Regions from separate parts of the Homo sapiens genome. Here all the other regions are linked to region 2. Evidence: fine-mapped expression QTL. A gene starts in region 2. Each other region holds a variant in brackets. All regions are shown on one strand. Distances are between the middles of the regions. Region 1 overlaps ARMH4 (armadillo like helical domain containing 4). Region 2 holds the start of ARMH4 (armadillo like helical domain containing 4). Region 3 overlaps ARMH4 (armadillo like helical domain containing 4).

Evidence for each region.
Region 1: its variant is fine-mapped to the expression of ARMH4 in putamen (GTEx, PIP 0.93).
Region 3: its variant is fine-mapped to the expression of ARMH4 in nasal epithelium (TOPMed, PIP 0.94).

What each region holds. Positions count from the first base shown.
Region 1 is chr14:58,095,713-58,103,899 of GRCh38, reverse strand. ARMH4 (armadillo like helical domain containing 4) reads left to right here. Exons shown (of 8, transcript NM_001001872.4): 5 at 6,919-7,176. It also overlaps the pseudogene LOC100420347. Among named protein-coding and RNA genes, the nearest start is that of ARMH4, 52 kb to the left of the region's middle. The variant T/A (reference allele first, on the strand shown) is at 4,390.
Region 2 is chr14:58,147,578-58,155,764 of GRCh38, reverse strand. It overlaps ARMH4 (armadillo like helical domain containing 4), which reads left to right and starts at 3,552. Exons shown (of 8, transcript NM_001001872.4): 1 at 3,552-3,690. RefSeq lists silencers at 3,358-3,427, 3,320-3,614, 3,508-3,727, 3,828-4,017.
Region 3 is chr14:57,995,839-58,004,010 of GRCh38, reverse strand. ARMH4 (armadillo like helical domain containing 4) reads left to right here. Exons shown (of 8, transcript NM_001001872.4): 8 at 1-3,250. Among named protein-coding and RNA genes, the nearest start is that of SLC35F4, 130 kb to the right of the region's middle. The variant G/C (reference allele first, on the strand shown) is at 3,932.

The sequences.
Region 1 (8,187 bases), 52 kb after region 2:
TGGTGGATGCTAGTGGTCAGAGAACAGTGATCCTAGGAGATCAGGATTATATAGTCACAATTGTTTTATCAGTGCAAACCTCTTAGGTTTGTGGGGAGCAAAGGACACTAAAATTAATTTTATAATGCTTCAAAAATAAATAAATGGGGTCAGACACAGTGGCTCACAGCTGTAATCCAGTACTTTGGGAGGCTGAGGTGGGAGGGTCAATTGAACCCAGGAGGTTGAGGCTGTAGTGAGCCATGTGCACATTACTGCACTCCAGCCTGGGTGACACAGCAAGACTACATCCAAAAAAAAATATAGTGCTCTTTTTGGACAGTTCCTGTTTATAGGAGGAAGGTCCACAAAGTTTTTAAGTAGGGTTTTTTTTTGGGGGGGGCGGGAGTTGGTTTTATGAATAATAGAAATTTATTTCCTCATCGTTCTGGAGGCTGAGGGGTCCAAGACCAAGGTACCAGCATCTGGCAAGGGTCTTCTTGCTGCGTCCTCATGTGGTGGAAGAGCAGAAGAGCATGAGCCCACTCCCATAGCCATTTTTATAAGGGCACCAATCTATTAATTTCCAAACATGAATTTTGGAGGATGCATGCAGACCATAGCAGGGAGGATCCTTCCTGCCTCTTCCAGCTTCTAGTGGCTCAAGTATTCTTCAGCTTGTGGCTTTATCATTCCAGTGTCTGCCTCCCTCTCCACATGACTTTCTCTTTGTCTCTGTGTCTGTATCTCAAGTCTTTCTCTGCCTTATTCTATTTTTTTTTTTTTCGAGATGGAGTTTTGGTCTTGTTGCCCAGGCTGGAGTGCAATGGTGCGATCTCGGCTCACTGCAACCTCCACCTCCCGGGTTCAAGCAATTCTCATGCGTCAGCCTCCCGTGTAGCTGGGATTACAGGCATGCATCACCACGTCCAGCTAATTTTGTATTTTTAGTACAGAGTAGGTTTCTCCACATTGGTCAGGCTGGTCTTGAGCTCCTGACCTCAGGTGATCTGCCTGCCTTGGCCTCCCAAAGTGCTGGGATTACAGGTGTGAGCCACCGTGCCTGACCTCTGCCTTACTCTTTTTTTTTTTTTTTTTTTTTTGAGACGGAGTCTCGCTCTGTCGCCCAGGCCGGACTGCGGACTGCAGTGGCGCAATCTCGGCTCACTGCAAGCTCCGCTTCCCGGGTTCACGCCATTCTCCTGCCTCAGCCTCCCGAGTAGCTGGGACTACAGGCGCCCGCCACCGCGCCCGGCTAATTTTTTGTATTTTTAGTAGAGACGGGGTTTCACCTTGTTAGCCAGGATGGTCTCGATCTCCTGACCTCATGATCCACCCGCCTCGGCCTCCCAAAGTGCTGGGATTACAGGCGTGAGCCACCGCGCCCGGCCGCCTTACTCTTATAAGGATTTTTGTCGTTGTACTTAAGGTCCACCAAGATAATCCAAGACTATTTCATCTCAAGATCTTTAACTTACTTGTACCTGCAAAGATTCTTTTACCAAACGAGGTCCCATTTGCAGGTTCTAGGGGCCCAGATGTGGGTTTATCTCTTTGGGACCACCGTTCCACCCTCTGCTGTCTCCAAAACACATGTCAAGTCTGTCCGCTTTTCCACTATCACTGCACCACCATGGTTCTTCTCTCCTGGGACTCCTGCCATCAGCCTCTCTTGCTTTCCTTTCTCTACCCCATAACTCATTTCCACACAGCCTGAGGGATATTTTAAAACCCTGCCCCAAACCATGTATCCCTGCCTGAGGCCTTCCAGTGCCTTCTCTTACCTGTGCAGAGCTGGTCTCCTGCTGAGAATTTACATCTTCACACAAAACGTTATCACCTTGAGGTGAGCTCCCAGTGATTTTCAGCTCATGTGCTCATGCCACTCTTCCACTACCCAGCCCAGCAGGCCACCAAGTTTCATTTTATTCTCAGCATTTATCACAACTTGAAAGCATTCTCTCTCTCTCTCTCTCCTTCATTCACCCATCCCTCCTTCAACCCACCTACCTACCCATCCATTTGTGAAATTAAAGAACAGACTTCTTCTTTGTGAGGAATATCTTTAACGTATTTTAAAACAGTTTCATCACCTGCCCTCCTCTCCACACCCTCTCCCCCGTTTTCTCTTCTATCAATGGTGGGTTCTTCATGTCCATGGTGTCTGGGCTTTTCACAATCCTCACTGCTGTTTTCTATCATGCTACCGGGCAGGGCAGGCAAAACAAATTGAGATTTTTTTCTGGTTAAAATCTCCAAACAAAGTTGTGAAAAAAAAAAACCCAAGTAATTTTAGAAATGTCATTTTTACCTAAGAATTGACTTGCTTGAGTTTCTCTTTATGGATTGACTATTACCTCATTGAAGGACAAAAGGTTAAGATTTTTGGCAGTGAACTTCTTTAGATGTCAGACCATTGCTTGGGCTATGCAGCAGATTCATTTCCTTTTCAGTCCCCACAACTTGCTGCTGTTGCTTTCCTGCTCATCACTTCTGTGAAAATCATTGTCCTTTTCCTTTTTCTCTTTTTTGGTCTTTGTTTGAACTGTCTTCTGCTTTCATTTCACCATTCTGATGGAAATCTAAGTGTTGTTTTGTGGAACAAGTATCCCCTTTGATGTCTCTAGGCACTTCCATGCCCAATTTGTGACAGAATTCTCTGTTTTCATTTCTGCTTCTTGGAGACCTGATACCAATTTGTAAACAGTCTCATGTATGGTGCTCTCATGACCGATGTACTGCAGTGAGTGAGTGTGACGCATCACAGTCCTACATGCAGGGCAGGTGTTGTTCTCTTACAAATACTTTACCAGGCAACCCCTACAGAATGTGTGCAGACACTTGGTCACCCTGGTTGCATCAATGAGGTGCCCACTACACAGGCGGCAGGTGATGTGGGCCTTAGTGTCCCACAGCTTAATCCTTCTGGTCAACATCTTTGGCTTTTCCTTTGGATGTCTGTCTGCTTGTTTTTCTTTCTGCCTTAGCATGGAGGCCCCACGTCATCACTCTGACTCACTGATTCTGCCTCACTCTGCACTCTGGTTCACTTCTGGCCCTTGCTGTTTTTCAGTTTTCTAGCACAGAAACAGTTACTTTTGAGGGATGGCCAGGAGTCCCTGCTACATTGTGAAGCTGTGATCTTGGTCTTGGGGGTACAGGCAGGGGCACTCCAGGAGAAGGAAGGGGTGCCACTCCTTTCGGATCCACCCCCAAGAGGAGGAGAAAACACCTGTCAAGAATCTAAAATAAAGACATGGAAGTCCTCAGGTAGTTTTAATGGTTCCTGATAGTTTTCCTAATAACCTAAATTTCCATCATGTTTCCTCTATCCAGCCTCTTTTTCAACTTCTCTTTAATTAGAGTCCCTGGTCCATCTTTATAATTACTCCTTCACACACAATCAGTACCCTTTCTTACCCTCTCTCTATCCCTCACACTCTCAATTGAGCTCTTCTGGTAAAACTTGCTGCTGGTTAAATCTCTGTGCCTACTCACCTCTCCACCCATGCCTGCGCCCAAGCAGCTGAATGTGGCTTGAGAAAAACTCACAACCATCTTAACAGGTCTCACTTTAGATATATGATGTCACATCTGAAGTGGGCCTAGAGGGCTGCCTGGCAGTCCTGCCCCATTTCTCTGAGAATGTACTCGCCTACTCTCCAAGACGACTATTTCACGCTTTTTCCTCTCACCTCAAACCACCAACATTTCTCTTTTCCTTTCCAGTTTTTTTATTTGACCGAGAATAAAAGAAATATAAAGATCCCCTACCCACCAAATCTGCCCACCTTCCTGCACCATGCCTGTTTCTCTGCCTTCCCTTTTTCCTACCGTTTCAGGGGAGGATGTATCCAAACCAGCCTGTGCACTGGACCTTGTCTTCTTTTAGTCATTATGAAGAAGCCAACCTGTCCAGTATGCACCAGGCTTAGTTTTAAGTACCTTATAAATTAACTAATGAAATCCTTACAACAGCCTTGTGAGGTAGGAATAATATCAGTTTTACAGACGAGGAGGTTGAGGCACAGCAAAATTCAGCAACGTGTGCAAAAATCACACAGCCGTAATAAATTTGTGTGGCTTCAGAGTCTATGCATGCAGCCACTGTATAATACCATGTCTCCCAGGATATTCTCCCGCAGCTGCTTCTGTCTTTCCTGCCTCATTGATTGCCCCTTTCGATGAGATCTGACCCATTAACTTACAAGCAGGTTCTATTTTCTATATTCTATTTTAAGACCCTACCCTTGACCCTGTGTCTCTCTCCACCTGCCCCCTATTTTCTCTGTTCTCCTTTTAGCCAAATTTCTGGTAAGAATTTTTTGTTTGTTTGTTGTGTCTTCTTTTCTAATCTTTTTTTGAACCACTCCAACCTGGCCTTTGTCTATATCATTCCTCCAAAACAAC[T/A]TTTGTCAAGGTCCCCCGTGCCCTCCCAATGTCCAAGCCAGAGGGACACCCTCAGTCTCTTACTCGGGCCCTTGGAGACGCTTTCTTCATTTGCCTTCCCTGACACCACACACTTCTTGGATTTTCTCCCACCCTGGTGGTTACTCCTGTTTCCTGTGTGGATCTTCCTCTGCTGGTCACCCTCTAAGTGGTGGCTTTGCCCGGGAATGTGGTCTGGACCATTTCCCTTTCTGTCTATATTCACCTTCTTGATAATCTCAGCCAGTCTCAAGGCTTTGAATATTATTAATAAATTGACAATTCCCAAAATTTATCTCTAGCTTTGAAACTTCCCTAGACTTCCAACATTCCCTTGGATGCCATAGGCCATCACACAGTTACTGTATCTCAAATGCAAATTCTTGTTTTGACTCCTTATCTTTTAGATCCCGTTTTCAGTCATGTGGGATCTTCCTCCTGCATCTCACATTGTACTTATCAGCAGGGTTCTACCTTGAAATTACATCCCCGATATGACTACCTCTCTCCTCTTTCCAGATTGTACCCTAGTCCAAAGCACCATAATCTATTCCTGGTTTTTAAGTGGACTCCTTGTCAGCCTTCTTTTTTCATCTCTTGCTTTGATATAGCCTGTTCTCCACCCTGCTGCTAGAGTCATTCTTTAAAAATATAAGTCAGTACTACCTGTTCCCCAAAAACCTATTGAAATAAATAAAAGACTTAAAAAAAAAAAAAGTCAGATCTGGCCCCTGCCTACTTCTTCCTACCTCATTTCCTGTATTTGCCCTGTGCCTCCCAGCCCAGGCTTCTTTGCCATTGTTTGAACACAGCGAGGCCACACCTGCCTCAAGGATTAGGTCCTTGCCATTTCCTCCACTGGGAATGCTCTTCCTGTAGATGTTGACTTAAATTAAACAAAAGAATGCATTATTTTGGTGTGGCCTCTGTTCAAACTTTACCTTGTCAGAAAAGCTTTCTTTAATCACCCTTTCTAAAATAGCAGTGCCTGGCGTTTTCTATCTTCTTGCCAGTTTTAATGAGAGTGTAGAGTCACCTGCCTATTGGTGTATCTGTTTGTTTGCTGTGAGTCTCCCTGGGTGGCACATGGGCTCCACGAAGGCAGAGACGTTATTGCTTTTATCCCTAGTGTCTGCAACGGCACCCGTTAGGGGGTTGATACATATTTGTTGAATTTTTAGAATAGTGACAGACATTAATCCTACAAAGTTAAAGGACATATAAGAATAAAAAAAGATTAAAGGTGATTTTTTTTAAAAGTTAAAAAGCCTCTGAATGATAGAGGAAAGGTAGTATGGGTGGAGAAAGTTGTGTAGAAGCAGAAAAGGAGAGTCTCACAATTCTTGGGTGGCTCCAGTTCTTCTTCTTCCCTTCTTTTCTCCACCATAGGAGGAGAATTACCTGTTGCAGTAACTGCTGTGCCGAGAGTCAAGGGGAGAGAGCAAAGGGAAGGCCTTCTGTGAACTTTGTGGGCACTTACCAGGGGCTTCAGAGGTGCATCCATGGTGAGGATGGGGCCTTGAAGTATTACTAGGAAATTAACATTGGTGAAACAAAATGAAATTGGGAATCATATGTTCCTTAAACCCACTCCACTTGGAGCATTGAAAATGACAGCTTGTGGTGAAGTGCCATGGCTCACGCCTATAATACTAGCATTGTGGGAGGCCGAGGGAGGAGGATGGCTTGAGTCCAGGAGTCTGAGACTGTGGTGAACCATGATCACGCCACTGCACTCCAGCCTGGGTGACAGAGCAAGACTCCGTCTCAAAAATAAATAAATAAATAAATAAAAAATAAAAAAAAAAAAATCAAGAAAACGACGAATTGTGAATGTTAACTCTTACAATGAAGATAATGGTAATTTTTAATGTGCTGCCTTTCTGACCACTCCTGGTGAATATCCCACTTCCCAATTCCTTTAGAGTTGGATTGAGAATGTTGATGCAATTATTTCCAGTTTCTTGGATTACTCTTCCTTAGAGAGAACAAGATCCAAGAGTGAATTTATGTGCTCCTCACTTACCATTTTTGTGAGTTCTACTCACTGATGTGGATGAATAGAAAAAGCTGTGCCAAAATAATGAATTGTCTCCTTTAACATTATGAGCTATAAAGGGATGGGAACAGCTTCTTTTAAGTTCTGTTAGTATTTCACAGTGTGCTAACTGATAAACTTTTAATGATCTCCAGAAAACAGCAAGGGGATGTTTACTACCCTTGTAAATATAAATAACTTTAATAACAAATCATATTACTTGAACTTTGACTCCCAGTAAACATAATACCTGATACTTATCTGACATAACTATGGTTTTGAAAGTTTAAACTCTAGGACATATGGTGGGTGTATAATCCTGCAAAGTTCACATTGTCTGACTTTGGCTATAAAGATGTGTTTCAAAAGGCCAAACAATTATTTTGTAGTGTTTGGATCATTTCCAAGGATTCATTTGTTTCAGCATAAACTCATTATATGTTTATGCTTCCCTTTGATTTCTTTTTGCCTAGAGGGACAAGAAGATGAGGATGAAGAGGATGAAGAAGATGAAGATGAAGAAGAGGAAGATGAGGAAGAAGATGAGGAAGATAAAGATGCAGACTCGCTGGATGAGGGCTTGGATGGTGACACTGAGCTGCCAGGTTTTACCCTCCCTGGTATCACATCCCAGGAACCAGGCTTAGAGGAGGGAAACATGGACCTGTTGGAGGGAGCTACCTACCAGGTGCCAGATGCCCTCGAGTGGGAACAGCAGAATCAAGGCCTGGGTAAGAGTCATGTGTATTTCCCTTTTCCTCCCTTCTCCCCTCCTTTTATATTTCTCAGATGACAGCCTTCTTTCATTGCCATCTATTGTAAAGAAAAATGGATTTTCTTTGTTTATGGGTGGTTTCTACATTTATGGGTGGTTAAGAATATAAGTATAAACTCACCGAAGAAATAACTGATAATTAAAAATTAAAAATGATCACTTATTTCTTCGATGAGTTTATATTTATGCCCTTAAGTAGCCAGGCTCCAAACAGTCTCCAGCTGCCTATTATGAGTACAGTTGCCTGATGTTTGGAAGAAATTCAGTTTTTCCTTCCCAGTTGGGAGACAGTTGTAGGCTTTAGGAGGACATCCGCACAGGGAGGAGATACGTGTAACCAGGATGTTGGACAAGCAGCACCATGGGACAGAGTCGAAGAACAAATGCATTTTTTGTTCCGCTCTGTCCTTTGGGAATCTATTACCTAGGGGAAGTTCTTCCCCTGCTTGTGGGTGAGCAGTTGGGCAGTCCCATGATTTTTCTGTTCAGACTTGTGGCTGCATTACCTTGTCAAACACGATTTCATTTCAGCAGCTAGGGTGGCCAGACCACTCCATGCTCACTCTCTCTTATTCATGGCCCGTGCTTGTGGTGAGAGACTTGGAGGATGCAGGCCGCTCCTCAGCTCAGCACTTCCTTCCACATCGACAGGGAAGCTCCCCAGTCTGTCCCTCTCCTCTTGTCAGGGGAGACGCTATTAAGCTCTCAGTGACTCCTTGAGGCCCTATTCCCTTGACCTGAGGTGAATTAATCTCTTCTCCAAGGAAACTCTTCTCTAAAATGCTCCTAGTCTTTAACAGCTAGGCCCATTGATTCCTTCAGTGTGGCAGATGTTAGGGTTAAGAGTCAGAAAAACTGGTACAAATACTAGTTTTGGGGATATGTCATTGAAAACTTGTAAGTTGGTCTGGGCCTTTGCTCTGGATGTAATTCTGGGAGTTGCACTCTATAGATTGGCATACAGGTT
Region 2 (8,187 bases):
AAAATAAAATGCTGAAATACAACGTGGTCAGGCTGGGTGTGGCTCATCCACCTGGTGGGTACTGAATCCAGGTAGAAGACCTGGCCACAGTGCAATGTATTGCACTGAATACATACAAAAAGCAGATCTCAGGCCAGGTGTGGTTGCTGACACCTATGATCCCAGCATTTTGGGAGGTCAAGGCAGGCAGATAACTTGAGTGCAGGAGTTCAATACCAGCCTGGACAACATGGCAAAACCTCGTCTCTACAAAAAATTAAAAAAAAAAAAAAGCTTGGTGTGGTGGTATACGCCTGTGCTCCCAGCTACTCAGGAGGCTGAGGTGGGAGGATTGCTTGAGCCTGGGGAGGTCGAGGCTGCAATGAGCAGTGATTGGGCCACTGAATTCCAGCTTGAGTGACAGAGCATGACCCTGTCTAAAAACAAACAAACAAACTTCATAGATTCAATTCAATCCAATCACATTCTGGAAGTACCTTATGTACCCATAATAATGTTTCAGTCAACCACAAACTGCGTATAAAATGATGGTCCCATAAGATCATGATGAAGCTGAAAAGTTTCTATCACTTAGTGACATGGTAGCCATCGGAATATCCTAGCACGATGCAACATAATGCATTACTCTCCTTTGTGTGGTGATGCTGGTGTAAACAAACCTACCATACTGCCGGTCATATAAAATTACAGCACATACAATAATGTACAGTAAATACTTGATAATAATAAATGTCTATGCTACTCTGGCTTATGTGTTTACTGTACTGTACTTTTTATCATTAGATTATACTACTTCTACTTGTATATAAAAATGTTAACTGTAAAACAGCATCAGGCAGGTCCTTCAGGAGGTATTGCAGAAGAAGGCCTTGTTATCACAGGAGATGACTGTTCTATGTGTGTTATAGCCCCTGAAGCAGGACAAGATGTGGAGGTGAAAGATGGTGATAATGATCCTGACTCTTTATGGGCCCAGGCTAATGTGTGTGTTTCTGTTTTGTTTTTTAACCAAAAAGTTTAATTTTTTTTTGAGACAGAGTCTTGCTCTGTTGCCCAGGCTGGAGTGCAGTGGTACGATCTTGGCTCACTGCAACCTCCGCCTCCCAGGTTCAAGCGATCCTGCTGCCTCAGCCCCCCTAATAGCTGGGATTACAGGCACGCACCACCATGTCTGGCTAATTTTTGTATTTTTAGTAGAGACAGGGTTTTGCAATGTTGGCCAGGTTGGTCTCGAACTCCTGACCTCAGGTGATCCACCCGCCTCAGCCTACCAAAGTGCTGATATTACAGACATGACCCACCTGGCCTTTTAAAATTTTGTTTTTTAAATAGAAAAAGGCTTATAGAATAAGGAAATAAAGAAATGAAATATTTTTGAACAGCTGTACAATATGTTTGTGTTTTAAGCTGTGTTATTACAAAAGAGTCAAAAGTTACCCAGCCGTGGTGGCATGTGCCCGTAGTCCCAACTACTGGGGAGGCTGAGGCAGGAGGATTGCTTGAGGTTAGGAGGTCCAGGCTGCAGTGAACTGTGATTGTACCACTGGACTCCAGCCTGGGTGACAGAGTGAGACCCTGTCTCAAAGAAAAAAAGAGTCAAAAGTTAAAAAAAATTTATAAAGTAAAAAATTCAGGTAAGCTATGGTTAATTTATTATTGAAGAAAAAATGTTTATGTCTACAGTACAGCCTAAGTGTACATTGTTTACACTACAGTAGTAGTGTAGCATACAGTTATAGCCTACATAACTACAGTAGTGTAGTTATGTACAATAGTATACAGTTATGTCAGTAGTGTAAGGTTACGTACATTACAGTAGTGTACAGTTATGTCCTAGGTCTTCATATTCTCACTCATCATTCGTTGACTCACCCAGAGCAACTTCCAGTCCTATAAGCTCCATTTATGGTAAGTGCTCTATACAGATGCACCATTTTTTATCTTTTATACTGTATTTTTACTGTATTGTTTCAATGTTTAGATATAGAAATACCATTGTGTTACAATTGCCTACAGTACTGAGTACAGTAACATGCTGTACAGGCTTGTAGCCTAGGAGCAATAGGCTATACCATATAGCCTTGGTACGTAGTAGGCTATGCCATCTAGGTTTGTGTAAGTATACTATTATGCTCGCATAACAACAAAATTGCCTAAGGATACATTTCTTAGAATGTATTCCCCTAATTAATCAATGCATGATTATACATAGATAATAATTTCTAAAGGGAGGGGGAATGGGTAACAGTGCATACCTGCTGGGCACCGTGGCACATGTCTATAATTCAAACACTTCGGTAGACCGAGGCAGGAGGATCGCTTGAGTCCAGGAGTTTGAAACTAGCCAGGGCAAGATAGGAAGACCCCATCTTTACCAATAATAATAATAATAATAATAATAATAATAATAATAATAATAATAAAAAATTAGCCAGTCGTGGTGCCGCATGCCTGTGGTCCCAGCTACTTAGGAGGCTGAGGTGGGTGATGGCTTGAGGTCCCAGGAGGAGGTCGAGGCTGCAGTGAGCCATGATGGCGCCACTGCACTCCAGCCTGGGGGAAAGAGTGAGATCCTGTCTCAAAAACAAACAAACAAACAAACAGAAACCAGTACATACCTGTGCATTGTGTTAGGTGTGGGGGTCAAAGGTGAGCCAGCTTTTGCTCTGACTTCAAGGTGTTTATAATTAACTACAAAAGGGGACTAAGGTATTATGAAGAAGGGAGCTAATAAGCACAATAAGGGACAAATGTGAAGAGTGCTCTGCAAATGTAAAATGCTGCGTTGTGGAGGTTGTTCCAAAACGGGCCTTTAGATTCCGACACCTCTTTCCACACCATTAGAAGTAACAGAAAAAGAAAACAGTCCTTGAGAGGCTCAAGAATGGAGGACACAAATTCCCGGTGGCCACGCGAGCCGGATGACCTTGGAGAAGTTACACAGCCCTTAGCCTTAACCTCCTACCCTGGTAAATGAGAACTACAATATCTACCCTTCTATCGTGCAGATTAAGCAGGTAAAGTAATGGGCAAAGCATCTACTCTTGTGCCTGGCAGGAGTAAGGGCTCAATAAACCTTACTTGTGACTAGCACTAGTTTGCAACTTCTCCGACGGACTGAGAAGGGACATTCTGTGTAGAGTTACTTTAAGGGTCCTACTTAAGGGCACCGCCAAGCCGTCCATAGTTTCCACAAGGAACACTGCAGTCTCAGATTTGCGCTCCTTGCCTGAACCAAAGACAGCAAAATTGAGGTTTTTCTCGTGTAAACGGTGCCCTGGTCTCTTCCGCGTAGATAGGGAGGCGAGCTGCCGCAGAAGCTCCCGCTTAAAGAGGGGAAGCGGAGCACGGGATCTCCGAGGGGTCCCAGGTGCCGGGACTCCAGCAGAAGCCGCCCCCGCGGGAGAGCGGAGGCGGGGAAGTGGGCGCAGGGGGGCGTGGGCGACGGCGTCGGCTGTCAGTGCCAGCAGAGCCAGGGCGGGCACACCTACTCACCGCCCAATCCCCGGCCGTAGCCGCGGCCTTATGAATAAGCAACAAAGCGAAGCGCCCTCCCCCTAGCGTCCCAGACAGCGGAGGGAGTCGCCGCCGCTACCGCCGCCGCCGCCGCAGGGCCCGCCGCTGGGATGCCGAGCGCCCGCGCCGCCGCTGCCTCTGTCCTCCGCGCGCTGCTCAGCTGAAGGCGCACAGGTGAGGACGGGCCCGGCTCCGGCCACTTGGGCGGCCGCGGCTGCAGACGTGGCGCCGGGGCAGGGACGGAACCGGAGCCTCAGTGGCGTGGGGTCGCTCCGCGAGCGTAACAGTCCCGGGAGCGTTGCAGCCCTGGGTGCGCCAGGCGTGCGCCCCGATCCTCCTCCGGAGCGCGGTGCCCAGGTGTGGGGTGCGCGGGGGCAGCTCTGGGCGCGCTGGGCGCGGCGCGCAGGCCTCGGAGGACTCACCGCACTCCTAGCTCCAGCCCAGCCTCCCAGCTCCGCACCAGCGAGCCGGCCTTTGTGCTGGCGGAGCTTGCAGGGCTGGCTGCTTTTGTGTGGGCTTTTCTTTCTCTTTCTCCCTCCGCTCGCAATCCCACAGCAGTGAGAGAGAAGTTCCCGAAAACAACGGTTTACTCCTTTCAAACCGTCGATCGCAGTGTCCCCAATGCCACTCAGAGCCTAACAATCGAGGAGCGAATCGTTGCTGCGGTCACCACCGAAATATGTCCTGCCACTTTGCAGAAAACAAACAGTTGAGTGTTTAGCGCAGAGATGTCGAGCCTCCTTGCTCAGCCCCTGACTCGTCCCCCAGGACGCGGCTGGAGGACGCTCCTTGGAAAGGTCACTTAATTAGAAAGAGGGCCTGCGGGTTAGACCTGGGGGAGGCGAGGCTCTGCTTGAGACTCCGGAATAGTTGGGAGGTGCTGCCGGAGGTGCCCAAATGTCTCATGTGCCTCGTGGTCACTGACAGAATCTGACTTGTGTAGATTCCAAACATGTAGAACCTTGGCTGGCGAGGAGGCAAGCAGGAGTGAACAAAACAGGACCCTTAAGAGTTTGGGTTCTCAAAGATGAGATGATCCCGAGGATCCGCCTAGCACTTGGCATCCAATTTCAGTGCAGAACTGATGTGGAAGAGAGGAGAGATGGCTGCTTTAAAGTGTCTGCCTTCTTTCTTTGGAAGTTTTAGTTTGAAACTTGAGGGGGAGTGGGGAGTGGTTCACAAAACCATCCCTAGGGTTCTGAAGGATCTCTTCTCCAAAGGGCAAAAATTCTTGAGTGGTCAGAATTCACATGCCTTCTCTTTATTTTGGTGTATTTCCTTGATCACAAGTGATGCTGTTGGGCTCCAGGGAGTCTCCTTTTAGCCAAGCATCTACAGTCATTGACTGACTTCGGCACGTATGCCAGTAGAACCCCACAGTAGCATCTATTGAAACACACAACCGGCTAAGGTTTCACAGTATCAGAACATTGCTTCTTTTACACACAGAGGTTTAAAGGTACTCTGACTTGCTCTTATGAATAAAGTGGTTTTTTTTTTGTATTTGTCACAATAATGAACCGAGCACTTGTGCAGCAGACAGATTTGATATTAGTTGAGTTTATTCATAGAAACTCCCAAGGCTCACCAAGTCTAAGGTAGCTACAGCAACGGAGCCAATTAGAGAGATGTGAATTTGTCTTTGTTTTCATGGGAGGCTTCTTACTACATATTCCGGAGTTTCCTGCCAGACCTTTACAATATTATAATTTGGTATTACGGAAATGGTTCGATGCTAAATATAAGTGTAGAATCAAAATGAGGAAAACGGGTTTATCTGCTGTGGAAAATGTCCACTCCCCACCTAAAGGTGTCCTTTGCCCTTTATTCTGTAGATGTTTGTCTGAAAAGTGGTGTATGGAATTGTATTTTTGTTAATTGAACTTAAAAAACTTCTCACATAGGGAAGCTGTCTATGCAGAGGGAAACTGCTTTTAATTTTTGTAAAATGAAAACTCATTCCCTAAGCAAGATGTGAGGTCAATCTTATTTTTCCATATTGTGTTTACTTGGTGATTATAAGAGAAGTATCTGAAGCTAGTTTCAGCTTCCCTTTAAATGTCAGCTACTTAGAGATCTAGCCAAGCAAATGGCTACATTTGTGTACCACAAAAACCAGAAATGATATGTCCAATTGGGTCACTGAAATAAACTGTCTGATGGATGGAGAAGAGTTTGTTGATCAAGATTCATCAGGATAGGATTCTGCAGACAGCAGAACCCTCTCAGGTCACATTGTCTACATGATAAAGCTGAAAGGAGAAGCTCCATGAAAGTACCTTGGGGAAAAAAATGCTACTCCATTTGTGGCTGATGTTACAGATGCTCCAAATTGCTCACATTTCTGTATTTGACAGGAATGCATGTCAGTAGCATGCTAGTATGTCTTCTATTGCATGATAATTTACTTTTGTTTCAAACTGCTTTTATGTCTATTATCACTTTTGTGTGTGTTCTCCACCCTTTGAAAAAATATAACCAGCATTATTATTTCTACTTTGCAACAAGAAAACTTGAGTTTCAGTGATTTGCCTAAGGTAGAACTGGAACTCGAAGAAGCCTGTTTTTAAATCTTCAAGTCCATCTCCTTTTACCAGGGATGAGATGATATGCTAGGGGTGATAAGCACGGATATCTTCATTTGTCTACATCACTAATTTGTAGAGACTGAAGCTCCTGGGCTCAGTATGTAGAACTTAGGTGTGGTCTTCAGGGATGGTAAAGTACTTTTTACTGGTATTTAGTTTCCAGTAATTTAGCTATTTTGACCCCAGCCTACTTACCCTCTTCCCTGCCAGCTCTGGGGCTGCTTTCCTCCTGGGGGACCATGCTTTTCTTTGTGGTTACTTACTCCTTCTCCCTCCTTCCATTGTGATGGAACATGCTGCTGAAAGGATTGTTTGTCATTCAGCTATTTAATTTATGGTGAAGTATAGCTGCAGCCTAGATCCTAAAGCCAATATAACAGACCAGTGATGATTGTCAGTAGCACAGTGAATCAGAAACGTGGTACCTTAATGCCATTTGCCACAGCTGGGTTAATAGAGTGAGAGTCTTTATAAGCTCAGCTTTAAGTAAATACAATAGTATTGGCAATAAAATAGTGTTGGCAGTAACAGCCTTAAGGATTTAAAAAAAGAAAAAGTAAGACAATGATAAATTAATCATTGAGGAATGGTCATGAAAAGGACAAAGTGGAAAGATTGTTAAGACACAAAATGGAAAGATTATTAAGACACAAAGATTATTAAGACACTATCCCCCTCATCAGAGAATCACTAATTGTATTTCAAAAGGTGAGATGGTATTTGGCAAGCATGTTGACTTGACGCTGTGAGACTTGTTACCTGTAACTGTTGGTCTGTTGCGTGTGTGTGTGTGTGTGTGTGTGTGTGTGTGTGTAATAAACTCTGAAACCTTAAAATATAGCAGAAATGAGAACACATAAGTTATTGTTATTGTTAGAGTGACAGTTAAATAAGTAGCCAAAATTGGCTAGGTATTGAATAAAACATACAAGTAGACATGGTTAGACCATGAAATGTCATTAAAAAAATCTTACAGTACAAAATAAGGACTTGAAACGTTCTTTTTCATATTCTTAAATGGTTATTTATATTCACATCATGCCAACAAATATTTATGGAATCTCTCCTCTTTGTGCCTACCCTTATTACTAATTATGTGGCAAACAAAGGAATGGTAAAGACTAGTGTTTGTATGCAAAGAACATAATCTCATTTGAGGTGCTGAGACTTAAATGACAATTCATGCTACAGGAGCTAGGAGAAGGGTGGGGAAAGAATGGGCCAGAATGGGATGTGACCTGGGAGGCCAGGGTTTGGATACCTGGGTAGGGAACCATGGGTCGTACAGTGTCATTCTCAAAACTTGGGAGCCTGAGAGCTGAGCACGGTGGCTCACGCCTGTAATCCCAACACTTTGGGAGGCCGAGGTGGGTGGATCACGAAGCCAAGAGTTCGAGACCAGCCTGGCCAACATGGTGAAACCCCATTTCTACTAAGAATACAAAAATTAGCCGGGTGTGGTGGCACATGCCTGTTATCCTAGCTACTCGGGAGGCTGAGGCAGGAGAATTGCTTGAACCTGGGAGGTGGAGGTTGTGAGCCGAGATCATGCCACTGCACTGTAGCCTGGGCGACAGAGCGAGACTCCATCTCGAAAATAAAACAAACAAAAAACCAACTTAGGAGCCTGAGATGAGTATGGCACATAAAAGTGCTATGTATGTGACTGATGATGGTGTTTATACTGGGCACCAGTGGTATGGGGTTGCCTTATTAGAGATGGATTTTGGCAATTGCATATTTGGGGACATTATATGCTGTGTTTTGGGAAAGCAGAGAGTTGTCTGGCAAAGGTAGGGACGTTGAATTCTGACAGAATCCAAAAGATCAAAAACAGACACTATCCCTTAGGCAAGTTACTTATCCTCTACCAGCCTGTTGTTTTCCTCATTTAAAAAGTGGAATAACGACAGTATACCTCATTAGGTTGTTGTAAGGATTAAATAAGATAATTTCCACTGGGCACTTAGAACGCTTGGCACATAGCAGCTCCTAAGTGGTAGCTGTCTTTGATTGATTATTGCAATTTTTATTCTTAAGAATAAACCAGCTGGGTGTGGTGGCTCACACCTATAATCCAAGC
Region 3 (8,172 bases), 150 kb after region 2:
TCAATCATACATGTCATACATGTTTATGATTAAGAGATATTCTTTTTGTGTGCTAGTTGATTTTGCCGAGAAAAAATGAAGAAGAATTCAAGAATGAGATGAGGGTAGGTAAGCTCTCAGAGCATTTCTGTCTGCCATTTGGTTCTATGCTTATGTGGCTGCTAATGTGACTAATTCAGAGTGTTGTATTTCCACATCTGTGGACTCCACCATGGAAAAGGTGGGCTACCATTGGTCCTTATATGGCTTTATTAGAAAAATAGACATTCTATCGTTTGTCTGCCCAGTGGCCAGAGTCCTGGTGAACAACAGAGCTCATGGGAAACCAGCCTCTCTCAGGGCACCCCGCTATGAGGATATTGAAATATGTTCAATCATTTCTCATCTCCCTTGGAATGTAATTCCCTGCCCTATACAAAATAGGATATTCCAATGCGCTATTTGAATCTAGGGATTGAGGATTTGTAGTTGAGTTTTGGGGTAAAGGCTTGGCTCATTGCCATGGAAGAATAAAAGTTATTTATTAATAGTGCTGTCACTGTGGAGTACTTGTTGGTGTTTATTAGAAGTTGTCTACTATGTTCAAGAAAAGTTGCACAGTTATTCCTCAGAGCTACTATGTGAGGTAGGACATATGTTTTTATTCTCCCATTTGACTGAAGATGGAACTGAAGCAGAGAAGTGAAATGATTTTCCAAAGTTGTACCCAGAGAGAATCAGCGTGAGAACCCACTTGGACCCAGCCATGCACCCTTATCTTCAGTTCAGTAACCTTTTCATAGACTTTGGTGGAAGCAGTGACATTTCAGGGTCCTTCTTTAAAACAAAGGTTCTAAGGGAATAGCAGGGAATAGCTGCCTGGTCAAGGAACGTTTGATGTGAATTTCCATCTTTGTTAAATGAATGATGCCTTTCTAATTTCTCTCTTACTCACACACAAGTTCTTTCCTTCCCCATCTCAGTTATCAGTTATTTCCTTTACAGTCATACATTTGAGTATCACCTCTATGGAACTAATAAACCTTCCTAGAATCCGTTTTTGAATAATGTCTGGCTCACAAGAACATTTTCATCAAATAATTTTAACTCTTTTTGCCAAGAGATGTAAGCAAATATGTGAAACTGATCAAGAGAAGTGAAAAGCTCTGTACAGTCAAATAGAAGTTAGCAACTGGCAAATTAGCTCAAGGTCAGATTTTAAAAATAGAATTCAGAATCATGACACTCAGAAGTGATTTGTAATTTCACGAGTAGAGACATCCTGATATTGCATAAGGGATGTTTTCCTTTTCTAAGAGCAGCCCTTTGCTGTAAGTGTTTCTAAGGTTGGGAGTAAGTGAGCATGGTGTGGCATTACTGTCTTTGTATTCTTGACAAACTATTTGTTGAGAATACGTCGTAGGCCACTTAACTGAGTAGCACATGGGTGATACTAGTGGCCATTATTGCCTTGGGCTACTCAATCTATAGTCTTAACTAAACCATGGCTAATAGGTTGAATCTTCAAACTGTAGTGTAATAAATTCCCAAATAACAGACCCATATTTTCATTTCTCAGAGGTCCGTGAGGATGACATGTATGTGAATTTTGGCTTAACACAGTATCTCTGTGGTCCTTTTTGGGACACATGATTTCTTAAAGGAAAAGATTATACTTAGAGTACATTTCTGTACAAACCCATTTAAACATCTGGATTGAGTGGAAGGTCGGTGGATGGTACAAATGACATGTTTATTTTGGCCATTTTCCTTGCTGCTGGTGGCTGTGGAATAATGATTTTCAGTGGTTGGCTTAGATTATTAAGAGGATCAGAAAAGGTTGTCATATTTTAAACAAAACCTGGGATTAGAGATGCTGCTACGAGATGGAAGTGCTGGCCAGTGGTTATATAGTGGTCCAGTTGAGAAGTAGTAAATCAGGCACTTGTAGGTTTACCCAAAATAAGTGACAAGTATGCTTATATTTGCACAATTAAAATAGAAAGTCAACTTTTTATTCAAACAACTAGGCTTAAAACATTTAACAGTGAAACAAATAAAGCTGTCTGGAAAGGAGGGCTGATTCCTGCAGCTTCAGTTGTGAACACCATCCCCACTGGACTGAGTTTACCCAGCCAGAACTGCCAGCATCCCACCGCAGGGGCAGGAACTAGGTCTTCTTCTCGGAGGGAGAGGCAGTGTTTCCAGAATTTGCAGGCTCATAAAAATCACCTGGGACACTTGTGAAACATACAGATCTCAAGGCCTTGCCCCAGACCTGATGAGTTAGAATCTCCAGGGAAGGAGCTTGGGGTATTCATGCCCCAGCAAGCTTGGGAACACAGCTAGGAGGGATCTATCTAGAGAACCACTTCCTTATGATAGAGACAAGGTCATTTAAAGTCACAATGAGATACCACCTCACACCTATTGGGATGGCTATTATTCAATAAAACAAAATATAACAATTGTTTCTGAGGATGTGGAGAAATTGGAATCCTTGTATACTGTGGGTGGGAATGTAAAATGGATAGCCACTGTGGAAAACAGTATGAAGATTCCTCAAAAAATTAAGATAGAACTACTATATAATCCAACTATCCCACTTCTGGGCATATATCCAAAAGAATAGAAATCAGGATCTTGAAGAAGTATCTGTACGCCTGTGTTCATTGCTTATGCTTATAAGCATATTATTCACAATAAGCTTATAAGTATTATTCACAATAGCCAAGATATGGAAATTGCATTGATAGATATGCAAATATCTATCAATAGATGAATGGATAAAGAAAATGTGGTATATACATACAGTAGAATATTATTCAGCCATAGGAAATAAGGAAATTCTGTCATTGTGACAATATGGATATACATGGAGAACATTATGCTAAGTGAAATAAACTAGTGACAGAAGGACAAATGCATGATTGCACTTCTTTGAGGTATCCAAAATAATCAAACTCATAAGGGCAGAGGCAAAATGGTGCTTGCCACGGGCTGGGCAAAGTTAAAGGTGGGGAGATGTTGATTAATTATGTTTCAGTTATGCAAGATGAATAAGTTCTAGAGCTCTGCTGTATAACATAGTGCCTATAGTTAACAATATCGTACTGTGCAGTTAAAAATTTGTTAAGAGGGCCGGGTGTGGTGGCTCACGCCTGTAATCCCAGCACTTTGGGAGGCCAAGGTGGGCAGATCATGAGGTCAGGAGATAGAAACCATCCTGGCTAACATGGTGAAACCCCATCTCTACTAAAAATACAAAAAATTAATTGGGCCTGGTAGCGCGCCTGTAGTCCCACCTACTCGGGAGGCTGAGTCAGGAGAATCGCTTGAACCCGGGAGGTGGAGGTTGCCATGAGCCAAGATTGCGCCACTGCACTCCAGCCTGGCGACAAAGTGAGACTCTGTCTCAAAAACAAAAACAAAAACAAAAAACAAAACAAAACAAAAATTTTTGTTAAGAGGGTAGATCTCACATTAAATGTTCTTAACACACACACACACAAACACACACACACACACACACACACACACACAAAAGAGACAAGGAGAGCAGTCCCCTGTAGGAAGAGACACTTTCCCTGGTCATGCTATCCAATAAATCACACCTGCTGTGGAGAAAGGAGAAAGGAAAACAAGGAAAGAGAAAAGGATGGAAGCTACTAGAAAAAGAATAGAAGGCTGGGATGGAGAGAAAAGGGTTTCTCCCATACCCCTGATGTCTTTTTCTCTAATTAGAAAAGACAGTGCTTTTCTTTCCAACCTCTTTAGTTTTTTCTTTCCCATAAGCTGTTTCTTTCAGTAGCTGCTAGCTTAATTTATATGCAATATTTGGAGTTAATTAGTATCCCAGGGTAACAGATTCCCTTAGCGATGCCTTAGCTGTGCCTTCAGCTGATAAACTGCCTCAAATACAATTTTCCAGAAACACTTTCTTAAAGTACCT[G/C]TATCTCTTAACATAGGTCAAAACTGTATGAAGAAATTTTAAAGCCAAGTTTTAGAACACATTTAAAGTAATTTTTGAAGAGTCAATTAAAAGTGGTTTTTCATTTTATGATTTTTTTCCCCAAATGCTAAGCGTTAAAAGCCAAAACATTTTATATAGGTATCCGAAAATTACATAGAGTGCATGGAGCATACTGAATACCTCGCTCTTCCTTCTGTGTCTGCCTCCAGGTGTCTTCTTCCTGTAGAAGTCCAAATGAAACACCTTATTTCCAATCACAGCCACAACCTGGGGGAGAAGAATCAAATCCTCCACAGGGATTGTGATTTCTGCAGATATGAATAATCCATGTTCCTACCAGCTGCCAAAAAAACAGCTTTTGGAAACAAGATGTACTATTTGGCGCAAGGTTATAGCTACGTGACATTTTGGCAAGACAGGCTTTTTTATGACCACAGAGGAATTTGAAGAGGCAGGAACACAACTGAAAAAAAATCTCTTCCCTTTATGGTATGTGAAGGTGTGGTTTCAAGCAAAGAAATATGGTAGAAGAAGATGGAGGAAAATCATAATGCAAGGCAAATATAAAAATGGCACAAAACATTAGAAAGTGCTGGAGGATGCCAAAGTTCTGAATGGACCAATGCTTGAAAAAATATAGAGAAAAGCAAGGAGAAGAATACAAATGAGGAAGATCATTAACAGGAGAAGGGACCATAAAGCTACACAAATCCATTTTGCCTCCACCTTCTCCATCAAATAATATTATCTCATAGTAGTTAGAATGAACATAGCTGGGGGTGGGGAACTGAAGTCCAAGATGGATGAGGAGGTAAAAGGTGCTTGGTTACTTTAAATGAGCTTAAGCTCAGTTAGATATCTTCTTTAATTGCACAGTCTTCAAATGACTGAATATAAACTTCTAGGAATAGGAAATAATTTGAAAGCAAAATAATGGTACTGACTTAGTAAAAGTCCCACATGTGCACATTTAGCACTCCTAGACTGATAAGCTGAAGATGAGCTGTGGAGAGATGTTGCCCTGATAATTATAGACTGGCAGTTAACATAGCTGGAAACATAATCCTGTTGCTTAATTTCTGCATGCAGAAAAAAACCCCAGCATTTATTTTGCAAGCCGCTGTAATACAAATGCACTGGGAGTGTCCTATTTGGGGTAATAGGTATATCTAACTCCCTTTTAATTAACCCAAATTTCTACCATGTGCATATAGGATAAAGAGAAGGAAGGAAGGAAGGAAGGAAGGAAGGAAGTAATTAAGGAATTCCCTCAGTAAGTAGCAGCAAAAGCACAAAGAAACAAGTCATTTGCTCCCATGTTCTAGTTTGTGTAAAAGCACAAAAAAATTGATGTAAAAAAACTTACATATTCCACCTAGTAAAGCAAATATCCTACTTTCTCTTTTCAAGAAGCAGCAGGAAAAGATCACTTATGTAAGTGATAACCATCAACAATTTGTAATATAGAGTATAAATTCTTCAGATGGATGTTGCTGAGAGGTGTAACCTTTTGTGGGTTAAGGATGGAGGAACTGAGGAGTAGAAACAGAAGAATTATCTGTGGGGGGAAAATCCTGTTATCTTTTTTCTCAAAGTGTATAGGTATAGGAATGGAGTGCAAGCAAAGTTGCAGGCAAAGTGGGCATCCACTTGGATTATTTTATTACCTTTAAGGTGGGTAGATCATCTGCTCTAGTCTCAAAAGAATAAACCTGGCATCAGTTCAGGAAACTGAGGTTTTTATTAACCAGTGTCATGTCCATCTCAATATTCTCTTCCTAATTAGCAGTCAAATAAAGGAAGGGACCAAAAGCATTTGAATCATTTCTCTAATTTTATGTCTCATGACATGGCCACAGCATTTGTGTAGTTCAGACTTCTTCATGACCAGACAGACTAAAGTAGGAAATTATAAGTAGTCTTCCAAAAAGGAATTTTGATACAAAACCTTCAATGGTCATTTTCCTTTATTTCCCTCTTTATGTAAGAGGTAAAGGAGGAGGAATAGGAAATGGTTTTGTGGTTGAACCAATCGAATCCCAAAGATTTGATTGGTTCTTTGCCGAGGAGGGTGAGGATGGCTAGAGACTCTATCTTCAGCAAACCAAGAACACTTGATATTGCTTCTGACTGAATCAGTATTTATTGAATGCCTTTTATGTGTCAGGTAATATGTTAAGTGTTGGGGGAGCCAAGACACAGTCCATGACTGGAAAGGGCTTATGGATTAGTAGGGAAGACAGAAAATGGGCAATTTCATATCAGAGACACTGGGATCCAGAAAAGGAATATCTAACTGGGTCAAGAAGATCAGGGATGCTTCTCCAGAGCAGGTAACATCAAACCTAAGGCCAGGAGGATGAGTGGGGTTATTCAGATAAAGGGGAGAAGGGGATATGTGATCTAGCCAGAGAAACCCCATGTGCAAAGGCCAGGGGTGAGAGATCAAGTAGTTAGCCTGGCTGGGGTGCTAGGTATTCTAGGGGAGTGAGAGTTGGGGTTGAGGGTAGTATGCTATGTGAAATACGGGGCTGAATGGGAAGGATCCTCTAGGTCCTGTCAAGGAATGAGGACTTTATTTGAGGGCAATTAGAAGTCATGCAAAAATATTATGCTGTGAAGTGTTATGATCAGGCCTGAGTTAATAGGAAGACTGGTTTGGGAAGGTTAAAGTCTGGAGTCAGAGACACCAGTGAAGGTCAAGGTTGATGCAGCAATGTAAGTGAGAGATAATCATGGCCTGGACCAAGGTTGCAGAAATGAACATGGAAGGGGAGAATGGGTTCTGGCGGTGTTCAGCAGGGGTAGACAGTGGGACTTGCAGATTGTTTAGATGGAGAGATGAGGGAAAAGACAACATTTAAAGCTGACTAGGGTCATGGGACTTTTGAGGCTTCTAGATACGATGGTCTAGTGTTCTGCCTTCTGGAGGGGCTGACCCTGTATTATCCCAGCATATCTAGGCCTGAGAAAAATAACCTACAAGCCTGCCAGAAATGTATAGGCAGCATTAATTTTTACAAAGTGTAAATGTGTGGTCATTTTCTGTGACTTCTTTTGTTTACTTTTTTTGAGACAGGGTCTTACTCTGTCACTCAGGCTATAGTGCAATGGTGCAATCATGGCTTACTGCAGCCTCAAACTCTTGGGCTTAAGTGATCCTTCCCCCTTAACTTCCTGAGTAGCTAGGACTACAGATGTGTGTCAGCACTCTCAGCTATTTTTTTTTTTTTTATTTTTTGTAGAGACAGGGTCTCACTATGTTGCCCAGGCTGGTCTCGAACGCCTGGGCTCAAGCTATGCTGCCTCAGCCTCCTGAGCTGTTGGAATTACAGGCATGAGCCACTGCACCTCGCCATTTTCTGTTACTTTTAATAGTAGGTACCAGTGAACTAACTTTGCATTTAATGAAACTTAAATATCTGGGAAAATTCTCCTAATACCTTTAGGGGATTACTTTGGTTGATCCCTAGATATGAGTTACTATCTCAGATCTGTTTGACTGTCTTGATTTGTAAAGGCTAATAGGAGAGTTTCTTATTCTTTGACAAGGGAACAAAGCTCAATATCTTGTTTTTCTTGAAAACAAATCCAAGAAACTTTTTTCTCAGGGCTGGTATGTATGAGGACAACATCTGGTCTTAGATGTGCAGCCTGCAGAATCAAGCAATGCAGCTCTGTGTCCTGGTGCTGAGCAGTTTCTGTGGCCTTTTGACAGTTCTTACGGGCAATCGTCAAGCCACTTACCTTCCTTAGCATATAAAAAATAAAGCAAGTTTCCCATAGTTGCCATATCAGCACAAGGCCAGATTCTGGAGGGCCTCAGGGACAATGATATGCAGAATTGAGAAAATTCAGAAAAACTTAAGAATAATTATCATTCCAGTCCCACCCGAAATGTTAACAATAATAAACATTGGTAACATTTTGGTCTGTACTTTTCTAATCTTTTTTTTCCTATGCATTTATGATATGCAATAAATACTTTTATTTTTATACAAAATCAGGATTATAATTTACATAGTATTTTGTTACCTCTCTGTAGCTATGTTTTCCCATGGTTGTTTTAAGAGGAATAGAAGAAAGGAAAACAGCTTGTGAAAATCCTAAGTTGTATTTGAACGAGCAAGCTGTGTTTCCTCATTAAAACATTTATTTCGCATTTGATGGTCCATAACTGCCCATTTACCTCAGGATGCCTCCATAGGATGAAAATAAGA